Homo sapiens: one gene and its partners. The protein of the gene in region 3 interacts with the protein of the main gene of each other region in a pairwise test. Each region holds a gene or a part of one and is shown on either strand. Other genes may lie near its edges.

Region 1 (3,500 bases), on a different chromosome or scaffold from region 3:
CTTTTAAAGGCTCATCCCATCTTATTAATATATTAGATGTCACTTATTAAATTTAGCAAATACAGAATGTTTGTCATATGATGTTAAATTTTTAGTATCTCATTTATGTGAAGACAGAGAAAATCTACCATACTTACTTTTCCATAACAATATTTGCCGCACAGTCATGTCCAAGGTTTTCTATGAAGGTCTGTACATCCTGAACAAGTCTTTCCATAAAAAACATTTGATAAAGAACAACAGGTTTTAAATAGAAAAAAAATTAAATCCCCAAGGTTAAAGTTAACTAATAATTTATATTCTTTTAATTGAAAGCCTCAAAACAAAGACATAATTCTATACCCAAGTAGGCACTTAATACAAGTTATGACCAGTTGAAATAATAGCATCTTTTACCTTTGATCACGCCTAAACACAGTTCCAAATATACAAGCCTCAAGGATAAGTTCGCTATAATTTTTAGCACTTGATAAAGATCCTTGGGACACATTTGAAGCAGACACTATCCAAGACTGACAGCAGTAACTTATCAGTGTATTGAAGACTCCAGTCTTTATAGCAGACATTTCAATTATCTTGTACATAATCTGGAATAAAATACAACCGTCATTTTATCCTTGATTTAGTTTTTAAAAAATCAGTGCTGCTAAAAACTGTTACTTAGTTTCAACATAATCATGAACAGTCTAAAAACTGTTAAATTCATTACTGTTAGAATAACTTTGCGAGATGATCAATAATCAGAGAATGCTATTTCATCTCTTGATAATAAAAATAAATAAAATTTTACTGATAGTGATATTCATCCAGGACTCTTCAAGAGAAACAACTGCCAAAGCAGTAGAATCAAAGGGGAAAAACACCTCACCCCACACACATTCAGCTTCCTTTGTTTGCATTTTGCCAGTGGCCTTCCTTTGGCTGAGGCAGCAAAGACCAGCGTCTCTAACTATGTACTGTGGGGCAGAAAAGGACCAAGAAAGGCAGCACAGGGCTGCAGAGAAATAACGGAATCTGACTCTCCCTGTTCCCCTGGGGATCAGGAGGTACACTGGAACTCCACCTTGGTATGTTCCTATCTCAGTAGCTGCAAATGAAAATACCTCCAGAAACCAGCAAGACCTTTTGATAAGGGTTACAGTCAGAAAAATATTTCTCTACACACACAAAAAAAAACCTCAGCCAAAGTGCAATGACAAATGGCGCCTGACATTTGCCTTCAAGTATCCGGGTGAAATGAGACTGATTGTGGAAAGAGCATGCCAACTCCTACTCAACCGAGCGATCAATTACATTGTCATGGAAGAATGACCAGTGTTGCTAGATTACCTCATTTCCAAGAAATCCAGTTTTTCATACAGATTTCCCAACTTTTTTTTTTTTTGAGATGGAGTCTTGCTCTGTTGCCCAGGCTGGAGTGCAGTGGCGTGATGTCAGCTCACTGCAACCACCGCCTCCTGGGTTCAAGCAATTCTCCTGCCTCAGCCTCCTGAGTAGCTGGGATTACAGGCGTGCGCCACCACACCTGGCTAATTTTTGTATTTTTAGTAAAGACGGGGTTTTGCCACGTTGGCCAGGCTTGTCTCGAGCTCCTGACCTCACGTGATCCGCCCGCCTCAGCCTCTCAAAGTGGTGGGATCACAGGCATGAGCCACCCCGCCTGGCCAGATTTCCCAACAATTAAAAGTTGCCAGGTAATCAAAATTTTAAACACTGTATGAACCAAACAAACCGTTTCTGAGGCAGATGTGGCTCCAGGCTACCGTTTTGTACCTTCTCTTCTACATCTGTCAGATTTTCTCATTCTTACTCTTGATATTTAAGAAGGTTCAAAAATATTTTTGACTGAAGGAATAAAGAGCCAAAAATCTAATTGTGAATACAACTCTCATGTTCCTCATGTGCTGAAGCTCACACACATGAAAAGAAAAGCAAAAAGAAAAGAAAGTTAGTTACCTCTTTTATTTTGAAATATGCCTGGCCCTTGATTTTGGCAGCAATGGTAAGAACTTTGTTATCAAAAACAAACTGAACAAAAGCTTTTAAATTAGCCCAGAATATCAGCTGAGTGTTGCTTAAAGAAGATATAATTTTCCACGCCATGTCAAAAGACTCTATGCAGAGTGATTCAGAGGAAGTCAGAAGCTGGTAGGAAAAAAAAAAATACATACTTATTTCAAAAACTTGATCGCCACTCCTATAGTTACTGTTCAATTCATGTTTCACTCTATCTTACCTTGGGAACCAACACTTTCAAGCAATGGAACACTGGTAAAACTTGATCAGAAGAAAGAACTGTGAGGGCTTCTAGTGCAGACTGCAAAGTCCTTATTGGCATCTGAACGGCAGGTAGAAACGGTTCCAGAATTTCACTCCCTGTGGTTGGTATAAGGGTGTGATATTTTTTCAACAGGAAAGAGAGGCACACCCATTGATCATGAATATATTGTGCAACTATTTTTCCCCATCCTTGGGAAGATGACGATTCTTCCAAAACACTGAAATAAAAAATAAAGTTACTAGGCCATACTTCCCCAATTTGCCTCCACGTCTTTTGCACGTAGCACACTATCCTTTCTAAAGGTGGGGGGGGGGGGGCAGTGTACAGATATAAATGGTCATTATCAAACAGCCTATCTACCAAAAACTAAGGAAACCACATAAACCTTAATTTTCTAACTTCTCTGAAAGTAGGTACTTTTGCTCATCTGAAATGATTCAGTGAAAACTAGATGCAGAAAAGTCAGCAAGTCTCCAGTAACAGAGATGAATAATGTTATACCACACTTTCATCCTGAATGGAGCTTCAGCCCCAAAATTCTATAACTTTATAAGCAATGTTGGGCAATCATGAACTCACGGTGACAACAACAGAAATGGATTTTTAAGCCTTAACCTTCCCTGTACCTGCTGCACTCCAAGGGGTGAGCATAACTGCTCTGCTCCTCTGCGTGGGGCTTCTGCAGCGTCTGATTGAGCTGAAGAGAGGAAAGGAAGCTTTCCAGGGGCCCAGCATGGAGAGAGTCCAGCTGCAGCTCAGGCTTCTGGTCTATGGCCTCACACACCATGGCCAAGGCAGCCATGCTCACTACTCTCTGAATCTGACTTCCAACTGTTGGCTCCTGAAAAGGAAATGTGACAATGTTTTATTTAATATGCACAAGTCTTAATCAGTAATGACCTCAGTTGCCAGTCTATGGAAAGCTCAAGCTCTCCTTTTCCCTCTTCCTGCCTGCTCCTGAATATCAGGAGAAATAAAAGGAAATCCAGTACACATCATTCACTTCCACTACTTCTCTACAGATTGGCAGTGAACAATTTTAAAGTAGCAATAAGAACTCAGCAATTTAGATTAAGACAACAATGGGATCTTTTCATCTGGTAAACAGGTACCTGGAACTAGTACATGACAGATTCGCTACGTACAGAACCCAAAGCTGTGTGTAAGTCCTTCTTGACCTTTCTCCTACTCGCATACACATCTGCATGCAGCATTCCTA
Region 2 (3,500 bases), on a different chromosome or scaffold from region 3:
GATACTTCCCAACATTTTTCTTTTCATGGGATACTTATAAACTTAGGAATTTACTATGGCATGGTAGTGTTTTATGTTTCCTAAGGCTGTACAGTGGTTAAGAGAATTATATGCTAGGCTCTAATTTGGGACAGTGGGGTGAGAATTACTGTGGGTTATTGGAAGATAGGGGACTTTGGAACATATTAGATGGAGTAGTTCTAGGAGTCGGTTACAAGGGGGGATGGTTCACAGACTGGAGGAAAAAAATCTAATGTTCTTAAGTTTTCCAGCGTTTTCATTACTTAACTGCTAAATCCTCCTGTGGCAGAAAACTTGGAGTTTTTCAGGTCCATTTAATGGTGCTTTCAAATGAAAACTTGAGCCTTAAATTCCTTTAGAAACAAGGGAAGATAAAAATATTTCACACAGTGTTGTGCACAAGGACTAGAGAAACACTTACAAGTTTTAGTGATTGTAAGTGTAGAGTTTTATCAGAGGAAAATGGGCCAGCATTGTCCAGTAGAAATAAAATGTGAACCATATATATAATTTTCTTATTTTCTTCTTTTTTTTGAGATGAGGTCTGGCTTTGTTGCCCAATTTGGATTTCAGCAGCGTGATTTTTGCTCATTACAACCTCTGCTTTCTGGGCTCAATGAATTCTTCAGCCTCAGCCTTCCGAGTAGTTGAGACTACAGGCATGCACCACCATGCCTAGCTAATTTTTGTATTTTTTTTGTAAAAAAGAGGTTTTGCCATATTGCCCAGGCTGGTCTGGAACTCCTGAGTTCAAAAGTGATCTAGCTACCTCAGCCTCCCAAAATGCTGGATTACGGGGATGAGCCACCATGCCTGGCTGTTTCTTTTTCTTTTCTTTTCTTTTTTTTTTTTAAGACAAGGTCTCCCTCTGTCACCCAGGCTTGAGTGCAGTGGCGTGATCATGTTTTATTGCAGCCTCAACCTCTCAGGCTCAAGTGATTCTCCTGCCTCAGCCTCCTGAGTAGCTGGGACCACAGGTGCACACCATGCCCAGCTAATTTCTTTATTTTTTGTAGAGATGGGATTTCACTACGTTGCCCAGGATGGTCTGAAGCTCCTGGGCTCAAGTGATCCGCCTATCTCCACCTCCCAAAGTGCTAGGATTATAGGCTTGAGCCACCATGCGCAGCATTTGTTACTTTTTAAATTTTTTTTTTATTTTTTTGTGACAGGGTCTCACTCTCACCCAGGCTGGAGTGCAGTGGTGTGATCATAGCTCACTGCAGCCTACTTCTGAGCTCAAGTGATCCTCCCACCTCAGCCTTCCAAGTAGCTGGGACTATAGGTGTGTGGCATACCCAGCTAATTTAAAAAAATTTTTTTTGTAGAGACAGGGTCTCACTTTGTTGCCCAGGCTGGTCCCAAACTCATGAGCTCAAGTGATCTTGCAGTCCTGACCTCCCAAAGTGCTGGGATTACAAGCATGAGCCACCATGCCTGGCCTCATATGTGTAATTTAATATTTTCCAGTAGTCACATTAAAAAGGTAAAATTAATTTTTATATATTTTTAATTAATATATTTTCACGTTAATGAAATAAAATGATTAATGAAATAATCAGTATTTTAATAATTACTCATGAGATAGTCTACATTCTTTTGTTTCCACTAAGTCTCTGAAATCCAATATTTTACATACTCTGATTACATTTCAAGGGCTCAGTAACCACAGGTGACTATTGGCAAATGTACCGGACAGTGCAGAAATAGACAGTATTTTTTTCATGAGCCATTAGCAGAACGCAGTAGAACTTTGGAGTACAGGACATTAGGGCAACTTTAGGGTTAACCAATTTAACATTATCTAAGTTTTTATTAATGAGCCAGAAGTCATTTAATCAAAGAGATAGCATTAGGTTTAGATTATATATCATTTAAGTAAATCCAATCTGAACTTAATGTGATTTCATTGTAATAACTAGAGATACCCACTTAGCATTCATTTGTGTTCATAAACACAATAATTTTCTTGTCTCTTTCCCCATTTCAGTGACCCAAATCCGTAGGCTCAGACCTTTATTCTCTGTTGACTTTATTGATGCCATCTTTTAAAAATTCATTACCCAAGAAATGGTAAGCATTCGGTCTCAGATTTGTTCAGGTCCATTTAACATTCATTTCAGAACATATTTATTGGTGGATCCCAATGAACGAGAAGAACGTGTGATGGATGGCTTGCTGGTGATTGCCATGAACAAACATCGAGAGATTTGTACTATCCAGTCCAGTGGTGGGATAATGCTACTAAAAGATCAAGTTAGTGCTTTGATTAATGTCCCATTAATAATAGGTTGCTTCTCTTTAGATGCTTTTTCTTGTCTTTTAACAAAAATCCAATGGGGATACTTCCAGTGATTTATTCTAGGATGTGTTAGAATCTGGTTTCAGTACTGTCACTATTAAATACATTCTGTTGACTGGTGGCTATGAGGTATCCTCCTCCTTCCTACCTTGGTGCTCCCGTGTCTGGCCTGCTGGAGTCTGACCCTTCCACCTAGAAGCAGGGTCTAGTGAAGAAAAAGATTTATATCCCTATTAAAAAAAAAAAAAAAGTGGCCGGGCATGTTGGCTTACGCCTGTAATCCCAGCACTTTGGGAGGCCGTGGCTGGTGGATCACTTGAGGTCAGGAGTTCAAGACCAGCCTGGCCAACATGGTGAAACCCATCTCTACTAAAAATACAAAATTAGCTGGGTGTGGTGGCTGGCGCACGCCTGTAATCCCAGCTACTTGGGAGGCTGAGGCAGGAGAATTGCTTGAATCCGGGAGGCAGAGGTTGCAGTGAGCTGAGATCGTGCCATTGTTCTCCAGTCTGGGCAACAACAGCAAAATTCCATCTGAAAAAATAAAAAATAAAATAAATAAATAAATATTAGCCGAGCTTGGTGGTGCATGCGTGTGGTCCTGGCCACTTGGGAGGCTGAGGTGGGAGGATTGCTTGAGCCTAGGAGGTGGAGGTTGAGTGAGCTGAGATCGTGTCACTGCATTCCAGCCTGGGCTACGGAATGAGACCCTGTCTCAAAAGCAAATAAAAATTTTTAAACATCCAATAGTAGACATTATGTAAAAAGATAGTTTTACTTGCACTTTTAGAACTACAATTGGCAGTAGTTCTGAAACCCAGCTATATATCATATTCACATGGGAGCTTTTAGAAAATAGATCTCCATATAGCATACAGTGTAGATGATTAAAAGCTTCTTTAGTTTGAATTCTAGTTCTGCCCCCATACTAGCTGATCTTGGGCAAATGATTTTATATCTTTGGGTCTCACTTTCTTTATCTGTAAAATAGGGAATGATGTTATTGCCAACACCTTGTTGTTATAAGGATATAAATATATTGCACAGTGTCTAGCACACATTTATTAAGTGTGCAATAAATGTTAGTTTCTGGTATCATCATCATCATCTTTACCAGCATCACAAGTACTACCCAGATTACCCACAGAAAAAGGAAGTTAGTGCATCCTGGAGCATA
Region 3 (3,500 bases):
GCCCCAGCTACTCGGGAGGCTGAGGCAGAAGAATCACTTGAACTCGGGAGGCAGAGGTTGTGGTGAGCCGAGATTGCACCACTGCACTTCAGCCTGGCAACAGAGTGAGACTCCATCTCAAAAAAAAAAAAAAAAAAAAAAGAAGAGAAAAGAAGATAAAAGAAAAGAAAAGGTAGGTTGGGGCAGTAACCCAGGGATGGGTGACTCACAGTGGGAAGGGAAGGAGGGAAGGGTGGTGAGGAAGTGCTGGGAAGGTGGATGCAGCAGGACAACACACATGTGTAGGAGTCTCTGCAGAAAGGGTGCGGAATGCTGTCTAATTTAACCAGTAAACCCTGAACACCACTGTCTCCTCTATCAGGGACTCTATAATGAAACGGCCACCATGCAGAGAAGAGACAGATTCTGGTCTAAGTAGAGTTGTTACCTAGGAGCCTGGCTTGCTTCATGGTCAGCACAATAACGCTGACCAGAGTTCGGTTCCCTCGGATGTGGGATTAGACAAAGGGTATGGAAATGAAGATCATGGCACAGCAAACCAAGAGTGGAGGAGACAGGGATTTGGGTCTGTATCCCCAAGGACCTTCAAAGAAACAGTCAACAATCACCTTTCTGAAAGTAGTCAGGTACCCACTGACCACAGGGATATCGTCAGATTCCCAGTGACCTCCCTCTGGAGCTCGTTCAGCTCTGAAAGTTAGTGATGCAAAAGCTCTTCCCCCTCAGCCATCACGACGTTCATTCTCCAGTTGCAGGTTCACAGCTTTTATCTCCACAGGAGCAGTCCTTTAAGGTTGATCGCTTAGCAATGGATGACCCGAGGTGTATAACTAGTTCTTATCTCCAAGTTCAAGTCCCTGAATAGGGCCTACAGTAAATAGTCCTCTGGCTTGTTCAGTCTGCTTTAAATTCTTTACAGGTCAGATACCAATATTTGTATTGGTTCTCATAATCACAGTAGCAGTGGTCAAAACAGGTTATTTCAGGTACAAACTGAGTCGCGAAAACATACTTGACTAGTAGTGGAGCTGTGGAAGTGTGCTCTCTCCCAGGTCACGCTCAAATTATGGGCCCATGGAAGACCACCATCAGAGCGGCATGGGAGGTGTCTGAGTTTGCCACCCTTGCCTTCCCTGGGTTGGGCAGAGAGGGAGTCCCAACCAACATCCTCACAGTCACCCTCTTCTCCATCCACCTGGATGGGCCATACCTTCCAAATCCACCATATCCTAAAATGTGAAAACAAAGCAGCTCCAGGACCCACTGTCTTAACCAGGTAGCATCAGTCAGCTGGCTTGTCTGACAGAGAGATTGTGCCAATGAATTTGGCCAGTGTTGTGATCTTTTAACACAGTTTATAATACTAGCTCACAACCCCTGGCTTTGCAACTCAGTCAGAGGCACCTATGAGATGTCTTAACATAAACAAACAAATACAAAATTAAAAAGTAAAAAAATTTTTAAAACCCTAGCCAAATGTTTTGGAAATAGTTTTTATTTTTTTAGTTTATATGGAAATATTTTTTAAATGCTCACAGAATTACAAAATCTCTAAAGCTTGAGTCAAACATGAATTTCTATTTTCCACTCGCAATACACGTGGTGGATGTCTTTAGGACCAATCTTGCAGACTCTAGGCACTGGGTCTTGCCCATGTTTCAATGGCCTGTGAAATCTTTTACATGACAGAGATGACTTACTACCTCTTAGTACCCCTTAGCTGCTAAGCCTTTCCATCATGCTTCCCAGGAGCAAGACAGTAAACTTTTTCTCTGACGTTAGAGAAGAGAAAATTGCCAGCCTGAAGTCACTAGGCAGTAACCAGGGCAGTGTCAGTATTTGAACAGCCTGAGAAGCTTCCTCATTCATTCTCTTTAGCTCCCTGGGCCCCCAGTCTTTCTCATTAGAAAGAAAGAGTAGTTGCCAAGCCTAGATCTTGAACCAGTTCGAACTGAGACTTGTGTATTCCGGATATGTGATAGAGTTTAACATGAATTCTGGAAGCATGTATGAATATGGAGAAACCATCCCACCACCCTGAACACAATGTCATCAGCTGTGAGGCTGGTACAATGATACCTAGCTTATCGGGCTGATGTAAGTCCCAGGGAGAGGACAAATGCTAAAGGCAAGCTATACCCTTCTGGGAAATGCCCTCTCTCCCTGCTCATTATTCGTCTGGCAAACATCTAATTCCCCTTTGCCATGTGGCCATTCCTCTGGAAAGCATCTTTATGCCTTTCATGGGGGATTGAGTTCCTCCCCACCCCTGCTCCTACGCCCTGTATTGCTAGAAGTGGTTCCTCTACCATAAAATCTATCACATTAGGGAAAACATTTATGTGTACATATGTGTCTCTCTGGCTCTAGGTCACTCTACTGAAACATCTAGAACTGGAGGCAAAACATTTCGGTTTGTTCACCATCATACCATCCGTGGCTGGCACAGAGGAGGCACTCAGCAAATGAACAAACCAAGCTGAATGAAGAAGTAAACTTTCTGAAGACAGGAAGCTTACTGAAGCCTGGTTCATCTATATATTCCCAGAGTCTAACACCACGCTTGGCACTAATGGGCACTTGATAGATGTTTATTTTTGCATGAATGGCATGTAAATTTATTACCTAATTAAATCATTTGGAGGACAGGCAGTAAGATTCAGATGTAAATACTACTGGTTGCATGCTTCTGCTCTGCAAGACTGGCTTCTTGTGACATACTGATAATCGGTCACTGTGAATCTGGGGAGTGTCCTTGTTTTGTGCTCTTCCCCCGAGGAGGGACAGATCCTTCTGTTAGTTCAAAAGTCGGCCTATTCCTAACTGCCAGGCATCCAGGATGCCTTCTTTGCCCATCTGTCTTTCTGAAAAGCTAGTTAAAGGGCTAATCTGCTCTTAATTCCTTTAGTGTGGTCTTTGAATGAAATGGTTTGAGTGGATTTAGTCTCCAAATCAACAGAGGCAGAATAAGACTGTCTGGGACTGGCTTCAGCTCCGGGATCAGCTCTCTTTGTATCACGTGACTTAGGGCACGGATCTCAGCAGGACATCTGGGATGTCTCTCAATGAAGAGATCACACAGGGGTGTTTTCGTACCTGGCCTAGTTGTAATTCTTTGCGTAGCTTCAGGATATACTGAAGTATTTGGGAAAATAAAAGCTGCACCCCCTGCAGACAAAAGGAAAGACAAACATGTGAAGGTCTTTTGTTGTGGTTGTCGATCTCAACATCAGCGCCAAATCTACTTTTCCCTATGACAACAAAGGGAAGAGACCTCCTCAAACCTGCCTTAACAGAGCTCCGGAGAAACAGACAGGTGCACCTGTCAGATTCTCAAGATGGAAGTGAAACTTGGAGCCTTGGTGTACTCCTGTGCCCCGTTTGCTATAAAGCGTTTTGTGTTTTGATTTTATAACTTCTTGATGAAGCCCTATCTGTGTCCCCCTCAATCCCACTTCCCACTGGGCAATCTCGTTTTATTAAAAAATTATATGGTACAT
Region 4 (3,500 bases), on a different chromosome or scaffold from region 3:
CAGCTTTGAACTCCTGGGCTCAAATTATCCTCCTGCCTTAGCCTCCTGAGCAACTGGGGATTACGGGAATGAGCCTCACCCAGCTTATAGTTACAAGTTACATTATTTCTAAAGACTTCATGGTTTTTTTTGTTGTTGTTGCTGTTCTTTGTTCTTTTTTTAAAAAAAGAAAACAACAACAACAAAAAACAGTATTTCACTGTGTTGCCCAGATGGACTCAAACTCCTGGGCTCAAGCAATCCTCCTGTCTCAGCCTCCCAAGGAGCTGTGACTACAAGTGCATGCCACCATGCCTAGTTGGATTTCAGAGTTGTAAAGACCAATGGAAGTAGAAGAAAAAGCAAACTTGACTTTCTTTTTAAAAACGTAAAACATACGTTGGATGCTGCATCATCCTCCTCCTTTGAACTTCCATCCTCTGCATCACTTCATGAGGATGCAGTCTCTGTGCTGGAGGTGCTGTGGCTGGAATATGGTGCGAAATTGGCTGGTGTGTAGGAGGAAGATGCTGAGGGATTGGTGCAGCTGTACTGGCTAAGTGAGTTGGTGGTGGGGGTGCCACAGGATGAGATGTTGCATGAGAAGATATTTGAGAATGGAAAGCATGTACAGGATGAGGAATAACATAATCCACTTGAGGCGGAGGCTGAGTCTGAGGAGGGGGGTTTCCATGAGAATGCGGGCAGGCAGAAGCTTGATGATGAAGTGGCCTTGTCAAAGAGGCATCTGCAAGAAAAATATTTTGAGTATGTTACATAGGCACCATGCAGTTGAACATATATTGCTATTATACATTCCTAGTGTACTTTTAAACATATTAGTATTTTATTTTTATGAATACTTTATCAAGTAAAGTATTCAAGCAACTGCTCAAGCAACTTGCTCCCTTCTTACAATAATCTTGGATATCTTATGTCAATATATATATTATAGTTTAACTTCACTCACAGCTTCACAACATTCTATTATATGAACACACCAAAATGTACTGACAAAATCCCCACTGATAAAAAAGAAACCCAAATGCTATGATAAATATCTGTGTATATGCTCACTCCTGCACTCACTCTTTCATTTACACACATGTATACACACATATATAGAGATCATTTCTGTAGCATAAATTCCTGTAAGTAGTTGTGGGACAGAAAGAAAAAAATAAATTTAGATGCCAGTTAATAAAAATACCCTTTCCAAAAGGTTGCCATAATTAATATTTCCATCAAGAGTACACAGGAAGGGCCAGGCACCGTGGCTCACACCTGTAATCCCAGCACTTTAGGAGGCCAAGGTGGGCAGAGTCACCTGAAGCCAGGAGTTCGAGACCAGCCTGGCCAACATGGCGAAGCCCCGTCTCCACTAAAAATACAAAAATTATCCAGGCATGGTGATGCACACCTGTAATCCCAGCTACTAGGGAGGCTGAGGCAGGAGAATCGCTTGAACCTGGGAGGTGGAGGATGCAGTGAGCTGAGATCATGCCACTGCACCCCAGCCTGGGCGACAGAGTGAGACTCCACCTCAAAAAAAAAAAAAAAAAAAAAAAAGGAGCACACAAGAAGGCCTGATTACCCCCACATTACCACTAAATTTTTAAAATAAATGCCAATCTGAGAAAAATCTTTTATTTCTTGACCGCTTGTATGTGTTCTCAGAATTATCTATTTACATGCTTAGCCTATTGTATTACTCACCTTTTTCTTATTGACTTGTAAGTATTATTTGCATATATGGAAGCTCTGTCATAATAGGGTGTAAACATTTTTCCAAACTGTCTCTCTCTCTCCCTACCCCATGTCATTATTCCTGTGCTACATTAAGGTGAAGGAGACCTATTTGTTTCCCATCAAATATGGACGTAAAGTCCTTAATAAGATGGCTCCTACCATTTCTTCATTCTACATCTTTATGTTTCAAAGTGACTGCTGAAAAATCTCTCTGAGGAATACACATCTTCCTTACTCTTAGAGATGTGCATCTACTTGACATGTAAAAAAAAAAAAAAAGTTTGTCTTAGATTTCAATACAAATTTCATTTTATTGGAAGATGTTCTTGGAAGTCTGATATAGACCAACAGCCATTCTCTAGTTTCATTACAGAAGTTTTCAATTTTTAATGCTTTTGATTCATTCAGCAAGGGCAGAAGTTAGGTAACAATAACTCAACTATATTTTCAAAGTATGCCTTGTTAGCATGTACTTAAAGGAAACTTTCAACAAATCTAATTTTTAAAAGTTGCAAGACAAATTTTTAAACCAATTTTCTAAAAGTTCTGTTTTCAAATCAATGCTTTACTCTTCAAGAAGGCACAAAGCTCAGTAGCTAGCTCTTAATCATAAAAAATGAATCCACTATGTTTTATGATTGTTAACTATCCTTTCTCAAATTCACAGCATTTTTTCTAGTTGCAAAGTTTTATATTTGTGTAATCATTATACAACATTCACAAATATTACAAAGCAAGAAGTTTTGTTTCAGAATGAGTCCATTTATTTAACTACTCTTTAGACATCACTTTAATTCACTGTTTAAACAAAACAGGTTGCTGACCATTTTAAGAGTGACATATTCCACATTCCCAAAAACCCTTTCCCTTCCTCTATTTGTGTTCCCAACAGTTAAAAAAAGTTCTTGATATTGTTTCCTAGACGTTCAACATATCACTTGCAGATGTAATACTATGCTTTATTCCAACATTTACTCACTGCATTCCCATAGCTTTACAGTGTAGACCATTTGCTTTATGATTAATCGTAAGTAGCCTTACCTATACCTCTCTTTTTTTTTTTTTTTTCTTCTTTTGAGAGGGAGACTCGCTCTATCGCCCAGGCTGGAGTGCAGTGGTGTGATCTCAGCTCACTGCAATCTCCATCTCCCAGGTTCAAGCAATTCTCCTGCCTCAGCCTCCCGAGTAGCTGCGATTACAGGCACCTGCCACCACACCCGGCTAGTTTTTGAATTTTTAGTAGAGACAGGGTTTCGCCATGTTGGCCAGGCTGGTCTTGAACTCCTGACCTCAGGTGATCCACCCGCCTCGGCCTCCCGAAAGTGCTGGGATTACAGGCGTGAGCCACTGTGCCTGGTCTTTTTTTTTTTTTTTTTTTTTTTAGAGACAGGTTCTCACTATGTTGTCCAGGCAGGAGTACAAGGATTGTTCACAGGTGTGATAACAGCACACTACAACCTTGAACTCCTGAGCTCAAGCAATCCCCATGCCTCAGCCTCCTGAAGAGCAGGAACTACATGCTCATACTACCAAGCCAGGCCTTACATATCTTCTCAATACATCTTATTAATAAGATAGTAAAACTTTTAAATAATAGCATTTCAAGTACAGTTGTTTTATCACTTCATCAAGACCACAAACCTTTCAAAAGCAGAGAGAGACATATTCTTACTCCACAAGTATTGTTGTTATACATATAAATGTACTTATGAAACAGCAAACTATTCATCTGGATCCAAGTATCACAATTTATAGCCAATAGGAATTATTCC
Region 5 (3,500 bases), on a different chromosome or scaffold from region 3:
TTCACCACATTGCCCAGGCTGGTCTTGAACTCCTGGACTCAAGTGATCTCATTCCAGAAGTTAACTGTTAAGGTGGGTTTTTAAAAAAAAACAACAACAAAATATGAAGTTAACTCTTAAGGTGAGTTTAAAAAATAACAAGAATAAAAAATATGAACACTGCTAAAAGGCAATGACACAAACATCAAATGGTAAATGATCATAACCACAGTTGACTCCATAACTAAATTCCATAGTCATAAAGGTTTTGAGTACCTCTGGGAAAATCTATTTCGATATCCAAATCTGGTTCATATGGTACATCAGGCATGCTGGACTGTGTCTCTGGGTCAGAGTTCTTCAAAAGGTCTGAACCAATTATATCTGTTTCAATAATTACACCTGAAATCAATCCATATTATCATTAGGAATCAAAACAGAAAACCCCAATGGTATCTGTATTTAATCTGGCAAAAGCAAGTCATTTAATTTTAAATGCAATATAAAAAAATACGTATAATGTCACAAAAGAAAAGGGCATATTATATATATAACTATCTCAAAATGTAAACCACTATAAACCTCATAATTAGTCACAAGCACATGAAAACTTTTAATCCTATAAATTTTACAGGAGGACTCCCTTCAAAAGCTAATAGGTATGCTTTGATAGTAAAACAACTTCAACAAGTAAAGTATTTCTAAAAGCAACTTTTTGTCAAAAATAAACTAATGAGGGTAGACAACTGTAGTTTTCAATACTCTTTGAATTTTGACCCAGGTTTCTCAGATTGTTCAATATATGCATATTAACAACTGCCTTTTAATGGTTCGATCAGTTGCTTTCAAGTGTTTTTGTGTTGTAATCATGGCAAGAAATGCATTTTATCCAGCACATACTGCAAGGTGATGGTGGGGAACAGAAAGACATCTGTATACACACTGGTTTCACAAAATAATACTTACCCTTTCTATGAGGGATTCACACTGTCATTTCTCTTACCCTATTCCACTTAGCTTTTTCTTTTCTTAAACAAAAACACTGGTTGCAACCCACTAATTTCACAACTCCTTACCACAGTGCTTCAAAAACACTGTCTCATTATTAAATCCAGAGAAAATTATAGTATTTTGATTGTCCTCTAGGGTAAGGGTAAGAATTAGCTCAAGGTTGAAATAGGACTTTGGGTATCAAGAGAGGGTTAAGGGTGGAAAATAAATATTCTAAGTGACTTAGAACCATCCACAACACACTCATCACGTTATACCATGTAGCGCAAGCACTGCCCTAACAGAGGTTAAGATAAACTCTGGTTTAGATAATGCAAATTATTTTATTAGTATAAGCAATAAAAGAAAACTAGGGGCTGGGTGTGGTAGCTCACACCTGTAATACCAGCACTTTGGGAAGCAGGTGGATCACCTGAGGTCAGGAGTTTGAGATCAGCCTGGCCAACATAGGGAAGCCCTGTCTCTACTAAAAAGACAAAAATTGGCTGGGCGTGGTGGCACGTGCCTGTAATTCCAGCTACTCAGGAGGCTGAGGCAGAAGCATAGCTTGAACCCAGGAGGCAGAGATCTCAGTGAACCGGGATCATGCTACTACACTCCACCCTGGGCAACAGAGCAAGAGTTCATCTAAAAAAAAAAACAAAACAAAACAAAAAACTAGGGATAACTATTACAAAATAAGAGTTTTGATCATCATTAGAGTCTACTACAAGTTATTATAGTTTTGCATCAGCACTACTCCATTAACAAGAATAATTTTGAGTTGATTTTACAAGTCAAATCCTGCTTAAAACAGAGACCAAAGACCAAATTCCTGCTTCGGATATCTGTCTGAGGGCACCTGGCTAAATACAGTGTAGATCTCTTAATATAAAAAACATTTTTGTTACAATGCTTTCCTCACCCCCACATAAGTTGAAACAAAATGATATGCCCTGGAAAGTACTGTAACAATACTTATAAATAACCAATGTTAACACTTATTCGCAAGGTATAATTTAGTGTAGCTCACTGTTGATGTTGGTTGTCTCTGTTTTCCCCTCGTCTTCACTCATCATATCCGTCATTGTAAGCAACTCTGTATCAAGAGCATCTGAAGAAACCTTGCTTTTTAGCTCCTCAATTGCTGCAGGAATCTTCTCACTGCTGTCCAATGGAGCAGGCAGAAAAACAGGAACTGGCACCTAATTAACCAAATCATTTTGAGTTAGGTTTACTAAACATTAAAAGGTATTTTTCCAAATTAAAAATTACTCTGACACATGATCTACTTTGTAATATCACACTGGATAAAAGCTTTGAAAAGAACACATACAAAACTAAGATGTTAACTGTGATAAGAAAGCCTAGAATACAAGCATCTACTTTTTGGAATTCAAATTAAAGAAAAAGAATTTTTGAAGTATTTCTGTCCCCCAGGGGACTATAATAGCCAAGCCCTGACACAGTGTTCTTCTAAGTACTGCAAGTGATTTGGGATAAAATAATATTTTATATGAAATTCTATGTTTCAGTTCTAAACCTTATGGCTTCACAAATATTTTTCTTTTTTTTTTTTGAGATGGAATTTCACTCTTGTTGCCCAGGCTGGAGTGCAATGGCGCTATCTCAGTTCACTGCAACCTCCGCCTCCCGGGTTCAAGCGATTCTCCTGCCTCAGCCTCCCCAGCAGCTGGGATTACAGGCATGTGCCACCATGCCCAACTAATTTTGTATTTTTAGTAGAGAGGGGGTTTCACCATGTTGGCCAGTCTGGTCTTGAACTCCTGACCTCAGGTGATCTGCCCATGTCAGCCTCCTAAAGTGCTGGGATTACAGGCGTGAGCCACTGCACATGGCCCACAAATATTCCTTTTGAAAATGAACCCAAATATAAACTTAATATGCACAGAGCAGGCACAGACATCCGCGAAATGTCACTCTCGAGGATGAACATATACATACTATACACAAAGCAATCAATCATGACAACAGAGATTCAACCAAATCTAAGTTAACTGTCGAAGAAAGGTAAAGATGGTTTTATTAGCTTCATTAAACTAGTAACTGCAACTAGAGTTATCCTCAGTATTCTAGGGGATTGGTTCCAGGACCACCTGTGGATGGATACCAAAGTCTATGCATACTCAAGTTCCACACCCCTACAGTCAGCCTTCTACACAGATTTCACATCCTCAAATAATTTTTTATTTTCATTTTTTTTGAGATAAGGACTTGCTTTGTAGACCAGGCTGCAGTGCAGTGGTGCAATCACGGCTCATTGCAGCCTCCATCTCCCAAGCTCAAGCAATCTTCCTACCTCAGCCTCCCAAGTAGCTGGGATTACAGGTATATGCCACTGTGCCTGGCTAATTTTTACATTTTTAGTAGAGACAGGGTGTCACCATGTTGCCCAGGCTGGTCTTGAACTCCTGGGCTGAAGATACGCCTACCTTAGCCTCCCAAAGTGCTGGGATTACAGGCAGAATACTGTATTTTCAGTCTGTGTTTGGTCACGGATGTGGAACCTG
Region 6 (3,500 bases), on a different chromosome or scaffold from region 3:
AGATTTGGTCAGTAGGAACCATTTCAAGCTGACTATTGTGTGTCTTGACACCCCTGCTCCCCATTAATCTTGGAGTGCTTTCTGACACGAGTTACTCCAGGGTTTATCTTATACTTTCTTTGCTCACCTCTGGAAAGAGCTGTTTATCCAGGGAGTCTTGGTTCTTTTTAATGAGAAATCGTATATAGAAACCAAGTTCTGGATGTTTGGCATATTCGTTGCTGCTGCAGTATCATTGCTTCTAGGTGCTTTGAGAGGAGAGAACTAAGAAAAAGGTTTTTGCTTGTTTAATCATGAGTTCAGAGTGATATTCCAATTCCTATTTAACAAGCAGACTTTTTCTTCCTTGACTCTATATTTGTCTCTTGTCTTAAATGAAAATCTTGGTTTTTAATACAGTTAATAAACTGGCCAAGCACAGTGGCTCATGCCTGTAATCCCAGGACGTTGAAAGGCCGAGGTGGAAGGATTGCTTGAGCCCAGGAGTTCAAGGCCAGCCTGGGCAACATGATGAGACCCCATCTCTATAAAAAATAAAAAAATTAGCCAGGCGTGGTGGTGTGTGCCTGTGTTCCCAGCTGCTCAGGAGGCTGAAGCAGGTGGATCACTTGAGCCCAGGAGGTTGAGGCTGCAGTGAGCCATGTTCATACCCCACTGCACTTCAGCCTGGATGACAGAGTGAGACCCTGTCTCCAAAAAAAATAATAAACTTATTTGCTTTCTCCCACTGTATACATAAAATCATTTTAAAATTATAGTGCTGGTATTGCTAATACCAATAAGCTTCATGTAGTTTAAGATTTCTTTGCATTTATTTTCGTATTTAGACTATATTGCATGAAGAATGTATAATGAGTACTGTGTTCAAAAGTCACTTGAAATACTTTTCTCTGGTTATGCTACCAATTTGATATGGTTCATAGGTTTCAGTTTTTACTTAGGATTTTATTTTTGAATATGTAAAGTATGTACATAGTGTAGAAGTCAAAATAATGTTTTAAAACTATACTTGGATTAGCCGGGCATGGTGGCACATGCCTGTAGTCTCAGCTACTTGGGAAGCTGAGGCAGGAGAATTGCTTGAACCGGGGAGGTTGCAGTGAGCCAAGATTGCGCCATTGCACTGCAGCCTGGGTGACAAAGCGGGACTCCATCTCAAAAGCAAAACAAAACAAAAAAAAACTATATTTGGATAAACCTCATTAAAATTAGTTTTTAAAGATGAAGTATTGTTTACCTTTACCATACTCCTTTTAGTATCTACTACATTCTCACATCAAGCTCAGAAGAATTAGCAATAGACAAATTATGTTATGTGAAGCCACATAGAAGTACTTTTAAATTTTAAAATTAGATTCTGCTTCCTCTGGCAAAGAGAACTAAGACTAGTTTTTAGAAGTTAGCAGAGAAGTGGATTCCATGCTTACTTTTTTTTTTTTTTAAAGACGGGGGATTTACTGTGTTGCTCAGGCTGGAGTGCAGTGGCTATTCACAGATGTGATCCTACTACTGATAAGCACGGGAGTTTTGACCTGCTCTGTTTCTGACCTGGGCCACTTCTCTCATTAGGCAACCTGGTGGTCCCTCACTCCCTGGAGGTCACCATGTTGATGCCTAATTTAGTGCAGACACCCAATCGGCATAGGATACTACAGTCCAGAACTTCTGGGCTCAAGGGATCTTCCTGCCTCAGCCTCTTGAGTAGCTGGGACTACAGGCACACACCACTGCGCCCAGCTCTTTTTCTTAAATAGTGATTTAAAATAGTGATAGATTCTCATTATGTTGTCCAGGCTGATCTCTCAAACTCCTGAGCTCAAGTGATCCTGCTGCCTTGGCCTCCCAAAGTGCTAAGATTACACATGTAAGCCTGTAGCCGTAGGCCTAGATACCATATTTTTAAATAAAAATTCCATAAAAATAGAACTGTAGCTTTTACTTAAATCATGTCTTTAAAGAGGCAGGTAGTTGGTAGAGGTTTTATGACTCCATCTACTTTTTTAACTTTTTTTTTTTTTTTTTGAGATGCAGTCGCCCTCTGTTGCCCAGGCTGGAATGCAGTGGCTCGATCTCAGCTCACTGCAATCCACCTCTGCCCCCTGGGTTCAAGCGATTCTCCTGCCTCAGCCTCCCTAGTAGCTGGGATTACAGGCATGTACCACCACGCCCAGCTAATTTTTGTATTAGTAGAGATGGGGTTTCACCATGTTGTCCAGGCTGGTCTCGAGCTCCTGACCTCAAGTGATTCACCTGCCTCGGCCTCCTGAAGTGTAATCCTGGCCTCCTAAAGTGCTGGAATTACAGACGTGAGCCACTGCGCCCAGGTGACTCCATCTACAACAAAACTGGCATAAATATGCTATGTACAGATAAAAAGGCATTTGGATATGTGATCAGTGGAGATAACACATTTTGTTTGGGTTGGACCAAATTTGATATAAATTCATAATTATGTGATCTCAAATGAAGTTTTAAGAGGGAGCAGTGTTCATCTAAAGTAAGCAGAGCACAATTAGGCAGTTTATCAGCCTCCTGTCAACCAAGTGCTGAAAAGCAAAACTGTGCCTGTAGTGTGTTTTCCTGTGTTCATCCTCACTGTCATAGGTCACACTAGCTGAGGCTGGCGTTGCAGGTGGTAAAGGAATTACCAAGGCAATTGTAGGTAAAGAAGGGCAGATTTATTAGAGAAAGTATGAAAGTAGGTTGGTTGCAAGGGTGCAACGGGCAGATCAGCAAGAGAGAAGCTGACTGCCAGGAGACAATGGCTTGCTGGGCATGTTACAGGATGATGCTTCTGCTGTGTGCTGCAGAGAGGGCTATGTGCAGTACTGATAAGGCCAAGGTTGCAGTGAGCTAACTTGCATTTTTCTGTCAGCTGAGAGTCTGGTGATAAGTTGAGTGCAGAAAGCTTGTGAGTTATTTGTGCAAGAGGGCTGTGTGTCTTGGACCATGAAGAAAGGCAGACTTATACCTTATCTGCTTTTTCTTTTTGCTGTACCCTTTTCCCACCCGCCTGACTCCTTTTCCCTTACTAGGACTCCACAATCACTGCTTTCAATAACAGAGTGAACATCTAGTTCCATTAGGGAGTGGAGTGGGAAGATGGAGAATGCTTGCACTTGGACCCATTCACCCTCATTCTGTCTTTAATCTCAGTAAAATACATACACTACCCAAGGTTCTTAGAACATATAAGGTGATGAAGAAGAATACTATAAACAGTTGCATGGGTATGTGTAGCCATGTAGCAGCTAGAACCTGTTGTGTAGGCTGAATGAACTAATACAGTGTTGATAATAATGCTAACATTTGTTATGCCCTTTCTGTATGCCAGCTGTGCTAAACATTTTATACATTATCTTATTTAAATCTCACATTAACACTTTGACATTGCTACTAGTATCTTATTTTGCAGTAAGGAAACTGGTATCTAAAAGCATTAAATGACTTGCCTAGAGTATCACAATAAGTGGCCGACCCAGGTTTCAAATTCAAGGCTG
Region 7 (3,500 bases), on a different chromosome or scaffold from region 3:
GCTGGGGAGAAAAGGACAAACTCCCTAGGAAGATAAATAGAATAAGTCTAGGAAGACCACTGTAGGATGGAGGACATGCCTTCAGGTGAGGTGGAAGAAGTGGAATTGCTCACATAATATTTTGTCTATGGCCAGACCTTACTCCACAGATCAGAAGTTTAGACTTCCAACAGTACCTCATACTTCACTGGGAATTGCCTGAAGTGGAGACAAATACATCCAAGTCTATCCTCTAGTGGACCACGTACTCCTGAATTCTCCCAATGGAGGCAAAATTCATCATAAAATGAAAAACAGAGAAACTAAATTACCTTCTGAGGTAAGAAGTAAGGCGGATCATCTCTCCTCTCCCACATTCTCCCATACACGAGTTAGCATTCCCTGTCACCCCTCCCCTGAGGTTACAGTTAAATCCCTGGAAGCCCATTCATAAAGCTTCCTCCAGTTCTCTTTCATTATTTAAAAAAAAAAAAAAAAAGCTAAAAGTACCAGGAAGATCTAAAATATGTGGCAGCAGCAATTCTCATTAGAATCAGAATCTCTCTGTAATCTTTTCTGGACAATACACAAAACTTTCACACTTCAAGAAACAGTAACAAATTTCAAGAGGAAATAATGGGCATTTTGCTTTGTCAAGCTATGTAAAGAAGTATTTCTTAGTAGCATTCAAGTTCCACAGAGGCAGTCAAAATTTGTGATGAAACAGGAATTAATTTTCAGTTTCCAAGTCTGGAGCTACTGGCATTATTTCATACTACTCCTGCTCCTTCCCATCCTATATGTAATCCATCTCGGAGAGACCTGTCTCTCGGATTTATCCTCTTCTTTCCCACACCTTCTGCCCCTGCCTCAGTCCACCAGACCTTCACCACTTCACATTTTGTTTCCTGAAAGTTTCCTGGTCTCCCTGGTTCCCAGTTCTATTACTCATCCTGTTCAACATGCCTGAAAATGTGTTTACTTGTTTAACCACATCTTTATACCCTGCTTCGTCCCTACAAGTGGACTGATCATGCCAAACCATTATTTTCATTCCATCCCTCCCCTGCTTAAGTATTCATTCAACAAATATTCAATGAGCAGCTATTCTGTGTAACACTGGGCTAGGCTCTACAGGAGGTAAACAAAACAGCATGTCAGGGGGCTTAGAGTATCGTGGGAGTGGTAAACATATACACAAATACAGTAACCGTAATAAGACAGAAACATGTTTGGGACATTAAGACAGAGAAAAAGAGTACTAGTGGGAGTTCCAAATCTGAGCTATCAGCTGGATGTCAACTGAAATTAGAATTGATATAGAAGAAGTCGAATGTGAAAGACAAGAAAAAAGATACGGAGGTTTCCAAGCTGCGGAACTAGGAGAACAGCAAGTCGTTAACAGGCCTAGGAACACCAGGAGGAAATTCAAATGGAAAGGGCATGACAGGAGACTTGAGGACAGCTAACATCCTTGCCAAACTCCAAGTCAGGGCACATGATCAGAGATGAGATTTCTGTTCCTCTTTAAGATGTTGGAAGCAGTCTGAGAAATACAGTCTCGACATGAAAATATTAGAATTTCCAAGATCAGTAGTTTGAAGAGACAGTGCCATAGAATATAAAAGTGGATCTATCCCAGAAAAAATCTAGGCCATGTGGCTCCTGTATATATGAGAGGATATGTTGGGAATGGAAAGTTACACATATACAATCTACTGACCTTAAGAGCTGTTTCATCTAGGCAAGTTAACATGCTTTGCAAATGTGGAATTTTAGATTGTCTTTGCACTGTTACAATACTCAGCATCTCAGCACACATGGGAACCTCCTAATCAAACAGCTTCAGGTAAAAACAAAACAAAACACAAAAGTAAACAAAAAAATTAAAACTTTTTTAAAATTAAAAATAAGCCAGGCATGGTGGCTCATGTCTGTAATCTCAACACTTTGAGTGGCCGAGGCAGGAGAATCATTTGACCTGAGGAGTTAGAGATCAGCCTGGGCAACACAGCAAGATCCTGTCTCTGTAAAAAGTACAAAAATTAGCTGGGTTTGGTAGCACATGCCTGTAGATTCAGCTACCCAGGAAGGTGAGGTGGGAGGATGGCTTGCACCTGGGAGGTCGATACTGCAATGAGCCATGTTCACACCACTACACCTCAGCCTGGACAACAGAGTGAGACCCTGAACCTAAATAAATAAATAAATAAATAAATAAATAAATAAATAAAATAGGCTGGGTGTGGTGGCTCATGCCTGTAATCCCACACTATGGGAGGTGGAAGCAGGAGGATCACTTGAGTCCAGGAGTTTAAGACCAGCCTGGGCAACATACTGAGACTATCTCTAGAAGAAATTTAAAAATTAGCTGGGTGCATAGCTGTGGTCCCAGCTACTCACGAGGCTGAGGTGGGAGGACAGCTTGAGCCCAGGAGTTAAAGGCTACAGTGAGCCATGTTCATTTCACTGCACTCCAGCCTGGGTGACACAGTGAGACCCTGTCTCAAAAAAAATAAAAAATTAAAAAAAAAAAAACCCAGCTTCAAGTAATCTTGACCATCCTATAGCATGGATACCATGGTGCTATCCATGGTGTCTGGGAACATGATGACAGGAGGAATAGCATGCCATTCATTATAATGTTCCCGATAATCCTTCTAGGTCTAATTGATAAACCCTACTCCACAAATGTAGAATTGCTTCTAGTTACCAAAAGCACCTATGGATGATGTATGATATAGATATCCACTGGCAAGTCAAGACTAGCAAATATTTTCAAAATCAGAAGCAATGAGATATCATAGTTTCCTTTAATTCTTTTGGGAGCAAGGCAGGTTGACCACAAACACATCAACATACTACTCTGTGAATAAACCAAAAACCATTGAATAGTACACTTTAAATGGTGAATTATATGGTATAAGACACATATCTCAATAAAGCTGTTATTTTTAAAAATCAACAAAACATGTTTTAACCAAAATATTCGTTTCCAGACAAGTATCCCAAGAACCTAGCTATTGTCCTTAAAATGTTTATACTGCTGGAAAAACTTACAAAATGGAAGCCTTGTTAAATTGCTGTGACAAAACCATTACCATTCTGGCTAAAAAGAAGAAATTGAACAGTCTCTTGTCCTTCACTGTAATAGGAACTGATCTGTATCACACATTAAAATCTGCCCTTAAGATCTGAATGACATTTTTTTAAAGAGCACTTTTCAGATTTAACCACAATGTTAAATACCATAATTATGGCATATCACTAATACATCTTTCCTTGTAATCTATCCTAGAACTTCCTTCCTATAATCCTCTGCAAGGGGAAGATCCTTGTGCTTATCCACTGATAATACTTCTAATGATTTTCCTATTCCTCTAGTAATTACAATAGTAGTTTTTATCTCTGGAATCAGCCCAACCTTCCCCATGTCCCAACCCATTCCCTAACTTCTACTAATAAATATCATACCAGCTGTCTGCCTGCTGTTGAGGTAACAGCAGGTTATTTATGCCCCT

The links.
Region 1: the proteins of ERG (region 3) and TARBP1 interact in a two-hybrid assay, tested with the Homo sapiens proteins (one large-scale study listed by BioGRID and IntAct).
Region 2: the proteins of ERG (region 3) and EXOSC9 interact in a two-hybrid assay, tested with the Homo sapiens proteins (one large-scale study listed by BioGRID and IntAct).
Region 4: the proteins of ERG (region 3) and RNF111 interact in a two-hybrid assay, tested with the Homo sapiens proteins (one large-scale study listed by BioGRID and IntAct).
Region 5: the proteins of ERG (region 3) and ZMYM2 interact in a two-hybrid assay, tested with the Homo sapiens proteins (one large-scale study listed by BioGRID and IntAct).
Region 6: the proteins of ERG (region 3) and ZBTB44 interact in a two-hybrid assay, tested with the Homo sapiens proteins (one large-scale study listed by BioGRID and IntAct).
Region 7: the proteins of ERG (region 3) and MYO5A interact in a two-hybrid assay, tested with the Homo sapiens proteins (one large-scale study listed by BioGRID and IntAct).

Annotation. Positions count from the first base shown.
Region 1 is NC_000001.11:234,427,180-234,430,679, forward strand, and holds part of TARBP1 (tRNA (guanosine(18)-2'-O)-methyltransferase TARBP1), read right to left. Parts: intron 3,123-3,500; coding exon 2,908-3,122; intron 2,499-2,907; coding exon 2,237-2,498; intron 2,146-2,236; coding exon 1,957-2,145; intron 588-1,956; coding exon 397-587; intron 210-396; coding exon 138-209; intron 1-137.
Region 2 is NC_000004.12:121,807,823-121,811,322, forward strand, and holds part of EXOSC9 (exosome complex component RRP45), read left to right. Parts: intron 1-2,144; coding exon 2,145-2,277; intron 2,278-3,500. UniProt on the Homo sapiens protein: Non-catalytic component of the RNA exosome complex which has 3'->5' exoribonuclease activity and participates in a multitude of cellular RNA processing and degradation events.
Region 3 is NC_000021.9:38,397,478-38,400,977, forward strand, and holds part of ERG (transcriptional regulator ERG), read right to left. Parts: intron 3,169-3,500; coding exon 3,097-3,168; coding exon of another isoform or gene 2,885-3,096; exon of another isoform or gene 2,595-2,884; intron 1-2,594. UniProt on the Homo sapiens protein: Transcriptional regulator. May participate in transcriptional regulation through the recruitment of SETDB1 histone methyltransferase and subsequent modification of local chromatin structure.
Region 4 is NC_000015.10:59,078,163-59,081,662, reverse strand, and holds part of RNF111 (E3 ubiquitin-protein ligase Arkadia), read right to left. Parts: intron 728-3,500; coding exon 379-727; intron 1-378. UniProt on the Homo sapiens protein: E3 ubiquitin-protein ligase. Required for mesoderm patterning during embryonic development. Acts as an enhancer of the transcriptional responses of the SMAD2/SMAD3 effectors, which are activated downstream of BMP.
Region 5 is NC_000013.11:20,059,727-20,063,226, reverse strand, and holds part of ZMYM2 (zinc finger MYM-type protein 2), read right to left. Parts: intron 2,175-3,500; coding exon 2,003-2,174; intron 382-2,002; coding exon 256-381; intron 1-255. UniProt on the Homo sapiens protein: Involved in the negative regulation of transcription.
Region 6 is NC_000011.10:130,308,418-130,311,917, reverse strand, and holds part of ZBTB44 (zinc finger and BTB domain-containing protein 44), read left to right. Parts: intron 1-1,443; exon of another isoform or gene 1,444-1,738; intron 1,739-3,500. UniProt on the Homo sapiens protein: May be involved in transcriptional regulation.
Region 7 is NC_000015.10:52,522,381-52,525,880, forward strand, and holds part of MYO5A (unconventional myosin-Va), read right to left. Parts: intron 1,823-3,500; exon of another isoform or gene 1,802-1,822; coding exon of another isoform or gene 1,703-1,801; intron 1-1,702. UniProt on the Homo sapiens protein: Processive actin-based motor that can move in large steps approximating the 36-nm pseudo-repeat of the actin filament. Can hydrolyze ATP in the presence of actin, which is essential for its function as a motor protein. Involved in melanosome transport.